Regions from separate parts of the Homo sapiens genome. Here regions 1 and 2 are each reported to be linked to region 3. The links are microRNA targets in miRTarBase. Many come from high-throughput screens and were not tested one by one. Region 3 holds a microRNA gene; each other region holds the end of a gene's coding sequence.

Region 1 (3,176 bases), not on the chromosome of region 3:
TTAAATATTTAAAGAAAAAGTGAGATTTTTAAGTAGGGCATGAATTTTTATAAGTAGGTATTTGATTTTCATATTTCTTTTTCTCTTTCATAGATATTTGGCTTTCTAAATATGATACTCTGGGGAGGAAATGCTTGGTTTGTGTACAAGGAGACCAGCCTACACAGTCCATCAAATACATCTGCCCCTCATAGCCAAGGAGGTATTCCACCTCCTACCGGAATATAATTAAAGGGAGAAATACACTGTATGAAGTATATGTTGATACTATGACATGTTGCCAACACCTTGAGAAGCATTATTTGTTTCTAATAAAAGTAATGGCTTTGTCAATATATTGGTGGGTTTAAAACTTTGCTGCTTTTTTACATAAAGCCTGTGCCTTTCCTAGAAAGTTAAGATGTAAATGTATTCTCACATGTAAATTTGAAAGTTCAGGGGTCTATTATGAAATGATACACATTTTTAAATGAACCATAATTTTTTTCACTAAGCTGTTTGCCTTCCAAAGTGTTTACACCTTAAGCCTTAACATGTATCTTCATTCAGAAAACAGTTATATTGTCATACCATAGTAGGAAGAAAAACCTTTATTTGGAATATACACTACTGTAAGTTTGTACAGATCATATACCTACCACCTGTCTTTGCTTAAAGAGCCTTGATTACATAAATATGTAGGAAAAAACATATTGAGTTCAAAATTTATATCTAACATTGTTTATGTTATGATTTTTTTTTAATTGCAAAGACTAGGTGTATATTTTTTTCTGTTTTTCTAAATGACCCGTGGTACTTAATAGGTGTACTAAAATTGTGTTGGGAGCAGGGATTTGGAAATTTCTGAGAGATGTGTAGTTAATTTAGTAATTCTGTTTCATGAGATATGATCTGTTATGCTAGTGGTTTAATAGGCTTGCTATGTAAGTAGAACGTGGCTCAACTAGATATCTTTATATGTATGGGCATTACTCTTAGTGATATTTGTTTCCTGTCCTTTGTTGCTCATGCTGTTTAAGTGCAGGCTGAGACCCAGCCTCTTTGTAAGTACAGTAAAATAATCCACCGTTTTTTACAGACCCTAGTCAAAGGGTTAAAAAAATTAAGATTGCTTTCCATGTTTGAAATTTACCATTGAGAGTCAATGAAGTTGCTATTTTGAGTTTAGCATTGATATTGTGAAAATAAGTGCAATTTGGATTTCATGTTTCTTAATATTCATTCTTGTTTCACAAATGAATGATTAAGGAATTATGCATCATAAAGGAACCTAAGTGAGGTATATGATGAGTGTATTGTCTTTGCACACACATATAGGTATATTCTGAATACAAGCTTATTCACATTTTGCTTCCTAATCTTTTTGTTGTACAGGGATTCAGGTTTCTTATTCTTACAACATGATTGTTTATATGTGAAGCACATCTTGCTGTTGCCTTATTTTTGATGCTTTTATTCATGACAAGAATTGTCAATATAAGAATGTATATCTTTTTTGCAACCAATTTAATAAAGGAGTTGAAAGAAAGAGTGCACTGATTGTTAATATTACAAAGAAACCTTCATCTTAAAGGCATTGAGCAGTGCAAAACAGAACTGATTTTCAAAGCAGGAAATAGAATCACAGTTTTAATGTTTGGCAAGGAATAAAACAGACAGAAATGCTTTGGAGACTATGGTTCTATCCTTTTTTCTTCCGACCTCATTTAGAAAATACTTATTTGCAACTCTTAGATTGTTTTCCTGATATACCTTTTCTCATTAATTGTCTAATTAACTAGCAAAGATTCCTGCTTAAGAGTGTGTGCTCTGCAACCGAACTGCCTAGATTTGAATCTTGTCTACACCACTTACTAGCTGTTTAACTGTAGGCAAATTGCCCTCTGTGTGCCTCAGTTTGCTTATGTGGAAGTCGGAAATAAAGTAAGTAGTTCCCTCCTGTTTACTGGGGATATGTTTCAAGACCCCCTGGGATGCCTGAAACCAAGTGTAGTACCAAGCCCTATGTGAACTGTCTTTTTTCCTATCCATACATGCACCTATAATAAAGTTTATCAATTGAGCACAGTAAGAGATTAACAAGGACTAATAATGAAGTGGCACAATTAAAACCATACTGTAGTAAAAGTTATGTGAATATGGTCTCTCAGAATATCTTACTGTACTGTACTACGGGGAACTGAAACTAAGAATAGTTAAACCACTTTCCTGATCTCAGTGTGTTTATGATTTAAAAGTGAATTAACAAATGTAAAGCCCTTAGAACAGTGTTCCGCATTTAGTAGGCACTCTATAAATGTTAGCTACGATTACTAACTTTTGATAGCATCTGATATAGAGATTCTTAAACTAGGAATTCATGGGGCTGGAGCCGTTAGGGTGGTGGTTTTGGACAAAGAGAGGATTGGCGTCAGGCTTTCAAGCTTGTCCCTTTACAATCCTTAAAGAGTTCTGGATCTTTTGGTGTGTTTTATTTTTCTGTTGGTTGACATTCATAAGGTTAATGAGATCAAAATTTAAAACTTAAAAGTATTGAGATTAAAGTAGATCTTAAAAGGACTTCTATTGCCTTTTCCCTTTGTGCTTTTGAATCAACATTACAAGGTTAACCCATTTATAGGATAATTTCCAGGAGAGAAGCAATAAAAGCTTTACTTACTAGGTGTTAGGTTGTAGAGAATTATTTATAAAAAAGATGAGCATTACTAATGTTTTAGTGAACAGAGGTCAGTTGAATAGATGTTTAACCTACTGTAAATGTTAAAGGCAATATTGCTTATGTTTCACATTTAAAATTTTTTCATATAGTATTTCAGATTAATAGGTAAGTATACAAAATAATATTTAACAAATGCTTTATTTGCATCAGATGTTTGTTTGTTGAGACAGGGTCTTACTCTGTCACCCAAGCTAGAATGCAGTGGCGCCATCTCAGCTCCCTGTTAACCTCCACCTGCCAGGCTCCAGTGATCCTCCCACCTTGGCCTTCTCAGTATCTGGGACTACAGGCACGTGTCACCATGCTTGGTAATTGAAAACATTTTTTGTAAAGACGAGTTCTCACTATATTACCCAGGCTGGTCTCAAACTCATGGGCGCAAGCAGTCCTCCTGCGTCAGCCTCCCAAGTGCTGGGATTACAGGTGTGAGCCACCTCACCCAGCGTTGCATCAGATT
Region 2 (3,176 bases), not on the chromosome of region 3:
CAACTGGAGTCCTTGCAAAAGACTACACTCTAAACAGCTGCCATCCAGGAACTGCAATCCAGACCCAAATTGAGGTTTCCGAAGTTTGACAGGTATCCTGTGAATCCATGTAATAAATATTTTTGTCTTCTCCACAGAATGTGAATGGCATAAAGTATCACGCTAAGAATGGTCACAGAACACAGATTCGTGTCCGCAAACCATTCAAGTGTCGCTGTGGGAAGAGTTACAAGACAGCTCAGGGCCTGCGGCACCACACAATCAATTTCCATCCCCCGGTGTCGGCTGAGATTATCAGGAAGATGCAGCAATAACATGCTGGTCATAACTGTGCCAAGAAATCCTCACCAGCAGTTGCTGATTTTGAAAACAGCCACCTTTTTTCAGGGGAAGCATTCAGCAACCCTTTAAAGAAAAAGAATTAAATGCATGCTTTAAATTTTTTCTGTAATTTTGGAATGATGTATCTTTGTAGAGTTAATGATTTTGTACATTTGCACATGTAATCATCATACCCATTTTCATTACTTTGATATAAGGTGCTAAACAAAAAAAGCTCTAGGTTCTTCAGCACATTTCCCCCAAAACAAAATAAAATTGAGGGCATGTTGCATATTGTTGAATTGTATTGCGGTGGTATCAACCTGGGGGGAGGAGGGGCTGGCACTGAGATTTTTTTTTCAAGATTGTAATGTGATTGAAGTTTTCAACACATCAACTCACATATGTTCAAAACCAAAATAATACCTTCATTATCAAACTGGTTACCATGCCTTACATAATGGAGTTAGTATTTGTGAGTAGAAAGACTTTAGGTAATGGAAATATAAATAAGAAAGAATGTTTAACATAATATGCTAAAAATATTTTCATATTTAAATAACATACGTAAAGGTGTGCTTTCTGTGTTTTATATTATCTTGCAAATCCTTTTGCCCTTTAAAAAGCTGAAAATCTTGCCATCTGACTTACTAGTCATTTTAGTGTTATAAATGGCATTTTGTACAAAATAGTCTATTCAGTTCGTTCATTCATTTAACACACATTGATTGAGTGCCTGCTGGGTACAAGGGATTCAATTTATGCCTATTGATATCTGCGGACCAAGATACCCATTTAGTGAAATACTTTTTTCCCTGAAATCTGTTAGAAAAGACTTTGAAATACTTCAGTGCAAAGTGTGTGTGTGTGAAGTTTAGTTATATCTTCATCTTCAGATGAAGTTTTAAAGCACTTTGTAGTTCTCTATTGCCAACAATTTAATGTTTATGTGTTGCCAATTCTTGCAACCACTGCCCTACCAAACCTGTGGGTTGCAAATCAGAACTAAAATTCTAAGCACGTTTCAAAGATGAACACTTTTGTTAAGACCCCTATTGCCTCTTCTTCATGCTCATTTTTTACTTTTTTTAAAAGGTACTTTTCTCATCACATTGTAGAGAGGTCTGCATTCTCATTGGAAATGTCTGTTTAGCTTTATAAAACAAACACTTTGCTGAAATAGGAAAATGAGCCTTATTGACAATTAAGTGCTTCTTGCAGCAGGTGGTCAAAGAAAAGCATGACTAATACGACCTATTAGAGTAATCTACATCTGGACCATTCCTTAAGTTTTTCCTCACCGACAGTACCATCATGCCTTGAGTGTTCTTTTCTCCCAAGTGCTATTCCTTAAACACGAGAGTTTACCAGTTGCCTAATAATGCAATAAAAAATGCTTTGAGATAGCTAACTGCCCATAAAACAAACTCAAATTGCTTATAAAGTTTCTTCCCATGTTCCCATTTGATGAAAAGTCTTACATCACATATAACTGGGAAGCAGGGGTCCCTCCTCAATTTTCAGACATTTTGAAAGGATGACAGTTCTGTTTGTTAGATGAGTAAACCTCTATATTCATAAGTTCTAAAATCCTTCATTATGAGGGATTCAAAGTATTTATAAAAACACTGCCCTCTAAAAATTTCCTCAGATCTGAAGTATGGTCTTGGTCCTGAATATACAGTGTTATCCTATGTTTAAAAGGGTGATCCAGACATGAGACGCAACTAGTTGGTGCATAAGAAGGCCCCACTTGGCTATTTCATATCTACCTACAATTGACCAAAAAAAATTTTTTAGGCCAGCAATTATTATTTAGCTTCGCTCTTTCTAGTGCAAGAAACTGCAGGCTGGATCAGTAGTTCAACAGCTAAACAGTCATAAAATAGTCATTGTGCATGTTAAATTTCTTTCAATGCTTTCAAAGATAAATTCCAATTTCTATTTACTTATTCATTGTGACAGTATTACTAAACAGGTAAGGATGGGAATATTTTGTTATACTGTGTATAGTGAATGTATTGTACTGTGTCTGTGAAAACTGTGCTTTAAATTATATTTTCATATGTTTTGTTGGGGACAGAGCACATTAAGTCTGAAAGCAACAGAGGTTTGTTTTAGAACTGAAGGCAATTTAATCAAAATTCCTGTCAAGAAAAGCTGCTTATAAATGTAAATGAAATCACATTTAAAATAAACTGCCTCTGACCCAAAAATAAATATGGCTCTTTATTTTCCTTAGTGTCCATTATGAAAACCAGTATCAAGTTTACCATGGAAATTAATATATCCATTCAGTTCCTCATTCTAAGGCTGTTCAGTTGATGCATGTAGACTTTATTCCCTTACATTTTTGCTTAGATTAGATTAGGCTGTATTACTTTTCTGTCAATAACAAATTAAGCTTGGACTTACTTACTTAAACTATTTTAAAATAAGTTCTAGGCTAGTAAGATGAACAGTGTCTACTACTATAATAAATATTCCAAGGATACTTTTGGATTAACATGGTCCATAATTATTAACTCCAACAAAAATGCTCCCATTGTTGAACATATTTTACCTAAGTATATAACCTATCTGGAAGCTGAAAGTCTCCAAAGCTATTGCTTCCTAGGACTGCTGTGTCCTAACAGCTGGCATATGAATGCCTCATACTGGTTTGCCCTAGACTCAAAAAACTTTTTAAAGGATTCTAACAATATACAAACTCTGCTTCCACAAACAAATACAAGTGACGACATGATATGCTGCAGTTCACATATAGCAACTCAAAATGCCACCAAGTCTAAATATTAGGTTAACATCTTCAATAGCTAGTTTGCTCAGAACAAATGTAAACTATTTTGATGATA
Region 3 (3,176 bases):
GATTAAGTGCCTGCTGTGTGCCAGGCGCACTGTGCTGGGTCTGAAGGAGTGGGTAGATGGGAGGGAGGACATGGCACATGGCTAACAGAGCTGGTTAGGGGAGTGGGGAGAAAATCAGAAATACAAAATGGCCCACGTGCAACCAAAGAACATCCATCTAGTTACACTAACCAGGCCAAGGAAACAGTACTGGGCACCTGAGGCCCAGATCTTACCTATTAGTGAGCTCTAGTCTTGGGCATTAAAAAAAAAAAAAAAGTGCCCTAAGGCCATATCTGCCTCAATACCAAGGGCATTTCCAGGAGGTCCTCTTAGGTTGGATTAGATTCTGAGCAGTAACCACCATGCCATCTTCATGAACAAAGCAGGAGTTGTTTTGGTCAACCACCTCCCTAAGGACAGAACCACTGTCTCATTCCCAGACTTGGCACTGCCTCCGGAAAACCCTGAGACTGAATGTAAGATTGATCAGAGGTGGACATTGGTATAAACAGAAAACTTCAACACAGGAAAGCAACTCTTCAATGCCACACAGCGGAATGAAGGATGGACTGGTGGGTCCCCCTGAAGGTAGTATTGGCTCCACGAAGCCCTCCAAAGCTGGCAGGCTACTGGGAAGTGGTAGCCCATCTCACACAAATCCCTCCTTTCGCACAGGCCACATGGCAAATCATCTCTTCCAGAACCACGGCTGAGGCTGGAACCGGTGTCTTGAGCCCAAGTTGCATCACTTCCAGAAAACTCCCCAGAGAGTGCATTTAGTGCCCAGAAGAGCCAGGCCTTGTTGCACAAGTCAGACATCAACCATGAGCCACAGAAATTGCCGTGGAGCAGTGCTGAAGCTAAACCACGTGTTCTCTTCCCTGAAGTTGGCAACACCTCCAGGAAGCCCTCCGAGGATGGATTGGATACTGAGAGTTAGTGGACCATGTTACATAGGTCAGAAATCATAACGCCTACGTTCCATAGTCTACCATCTCTTCAGGAACCACGGAATGGTGCTGACCCCAGAACCAGGGCCTTGCCCCTGAAGTTGGCGTCACTTCCAGAAAGCTTTCTGAGGCTGGATTTGGCATTGGAAGCAGGCACATGGTGAACATAAACAACCCCTCCTCCAATGTGGGGCAGTGGCATTGATGGGGGAAGGGGTGCCTCTACCCTAAGTGGTAATTCCTCCAGGAAGGCCATGTCAACTTGGAAAGACTGCGACAAGGCAAAATGTACAATACTGACCATGCTTTGGCCATTATGTGGTCAACTATCTCTTCATCAAGATAAAGGGCAGTGTTTTGTTCTGCATGGCAAATGGGACACTCCAAGAGCACAGTTCATCATATAAAAGGGGACCCTCAACCTCTAGGTAAAAACTTCCCTAGCTCACCCAAGTTCCGATGGTCCTCGCCATGCTCTAGACCACCTTTGGAGACTCAAACCACAGAGCTGAGTGGGCAGTGCGTTCCTCCAGCTCCTGATTAACCTCTCCACCTCCTTCAGGAGGTCTTCCTTGATTTTCTCCATCCCCTTTCATGGCACAACTATCCCATGTGAATGGAATGCAAAGCAATGATTTGTTAGCCTCCAGGGAAAGGACAAGGGCAGAACCCTCAGCAGCCCTGCAGGACAGCTCGGTTGTCCTCTAAAGTCCTGAACCCCAGTGTAGACGGGGCCCTGCAACTCAGTTGTTGAAGTCCTAACTCCTTAGGAAGTCATTCAAGGCATCATGCTCCCCTGCTCCCTCCAAGTGTGAGCTAGTCTAGTCTAAGAGATTACCCTCCATACCCCGTGCATTGTCCACATGCCTTTGCTGGCACTACTCCTCCACCCAGACCCCGTGTCTGCTTACATCTCTCTGAAGCCCAACCAAATGGCAGTTCTTCCACGAGCCCGACCCCACCTCAGCCAACTCAGGCCTTTGCATCCCTGACCCTCCACAGCACCCTGCCTGCACCTCTCCTCCAGCCCACTCACATTTTCCATGTGGTCACTCGTAGAAATAAACTTGTGTTTACTGAACATCTGTGAGGTGCTGGAGCTAGACCAGTAAATAAGACACAGTCTCTGCCTTCCTGCAGCTGCTAGCGTTGTGGGGAAAACCAACATTAAAGTAGTTATTGCAGAGAATTGGTTTCAAAATGTGAGGAGGCCAAAGTGTTGTGAAGGAGCAGAGAGCATTTAACAAGAGGCTCTCGCCAATCAGGAAAACTTCTCAGAAGTTTAGATTAGAAGATAAAGGATGAGGGGACTAAGCCAAGAAGAGAGAGGACAAGAGTGGACACTGTAGGGTAAAAGCAGAGGACCAGATGGAGCATGGACTGGATGGAGCATGGGTCAGATGAACATGGTCGGGGTGGACAGTGGACTGGATGGAGTATGGACTGGATGCAGTATGAACTGGATGGAGTAGTGGTCGAGGTGGGGCGTGGATTGGATGGAGCGTGGTCTGTGTGGGGCATGAACTGGATGGAACATGGACTGGATGGGGTGTTGACTTGGGGGAGTGTGAACTACATGGGGTGTGGTCTGGATGGAGTAGTGGTCTGGATGGGGTGTGGACTGGATGCAGTGTGACTGGATGGGGTGTGGTCTGGGTGAGGTGTGGTCTGGATGGGGTATGGTCTGGATGGGGCGTGGATGGTCTGGGTGAGGTGTGGTCTGGATGGGGTATGGTCTGTATGGGGCGTGGACTGGATACAGTGTGGTCTGGATGGGGTGTGGACTGGATGGGGTGTGGACTGGATGGGGTGTGGTCTGGGTGAGGTGTGGTCTGGATGGGGTGTGGACTGGATGCAACGTGGACTGAATGGGGTGTGGTCTGGATGGAGTGTAGACTAGAAGGGGTGTGTACTGGATGGGGTGTGTACTGGATGGGGTGTGGTCTGGATGGGGTGTGGACTGGATGGGGTGTGTACTGGACAGGGTGTGGACTGGACGGGGTGTGGACTGGATGGGGTGTAGACAGGATGGAGTGTGGACTGGATGGAGTAGTGATCTTGATGGGGTGTGGACTGGATGGAGTGTGGACTGGATGGAGATTGGTCTGGGTGAGGTGTGGACTAGATAGATGGACTGAGGTCTGGATGCAGTGAGGACTGGATGGAGTAGTGGTCTGGATGGTGTGTGGTCTGGATGGGGCATGGACTAGATGGTGTGTGGTCTGGATGGGGCATGGACTAGAT

The links. Region 3 holds the annotated microRNA hsa-miR-379-3p (UAUGUAACAUGGUCCACUAACU, at 917-938, opposite strand). A microRNA usually pairs through its seed, bases 2 to 8, with sites in the 3' UTR of a target mRNA and lowers its output. Matches are read on the target gene's strand: a 7mer-m8 pairs with bases 2 to 8, a 7mer-A1 pairs with bases 2 to 7 and ends in A, and an 8mer does both.
Region 1: the mRNA of SYPL1 is a reported target of hsa-miR-379-3p. Seed matches in the 3' UTR shown: 7mer-A1 at 366-372 and 7mer-A1 at 666-672.
Region 2: the mRNA of JAZF1 is a reported target of hsa-miR-379-3p. Seed matches in the 3' UTR shown: 7mer-A1 at 775-781.

What each region holds. Positions count from the first base shown.
Region 1 is chr7:106,088,857-106,092,032 of GRCh38, reverse strand. It overlaps SYPL1 (synaptophysin like 1), which reads left to right. Exons shown (of 5, transcript NM_182715.4): 5 at 94-1,528. The coding sequence ends at 228. Among named protein-coding and RNA genes, the nearest start is that of SYPL1, 22 kb to the left of the region's middle.
Region 2 is chr7:27,829,938-27,833,113 of GRCh38, reverse strand. JAZF1 (JAZF zinc finger 1) reads left to right here. Exons shown (of 5, transcript NM_175061.4): 5 at 138-2,537. The coding sequence ends at 314. Among named protein-coding and RNA genes, the nearest start is that of TAX1BP1-AS1, 91 kb to the right of the region's middle.
Region 3 is chr14:101,019,871-101,023,046 of GRCh38, reverse strand. It overlaps MIR379 (microRNA 379), which reads right to left and starts at 981; the gene lies at 915-981. LOC124903407 (mucin-2-like) reads right to left here. Exons shown (of 5, transcript XM_047432049.1): 5 at 1-3,176. The coding sequence ends at 2,243.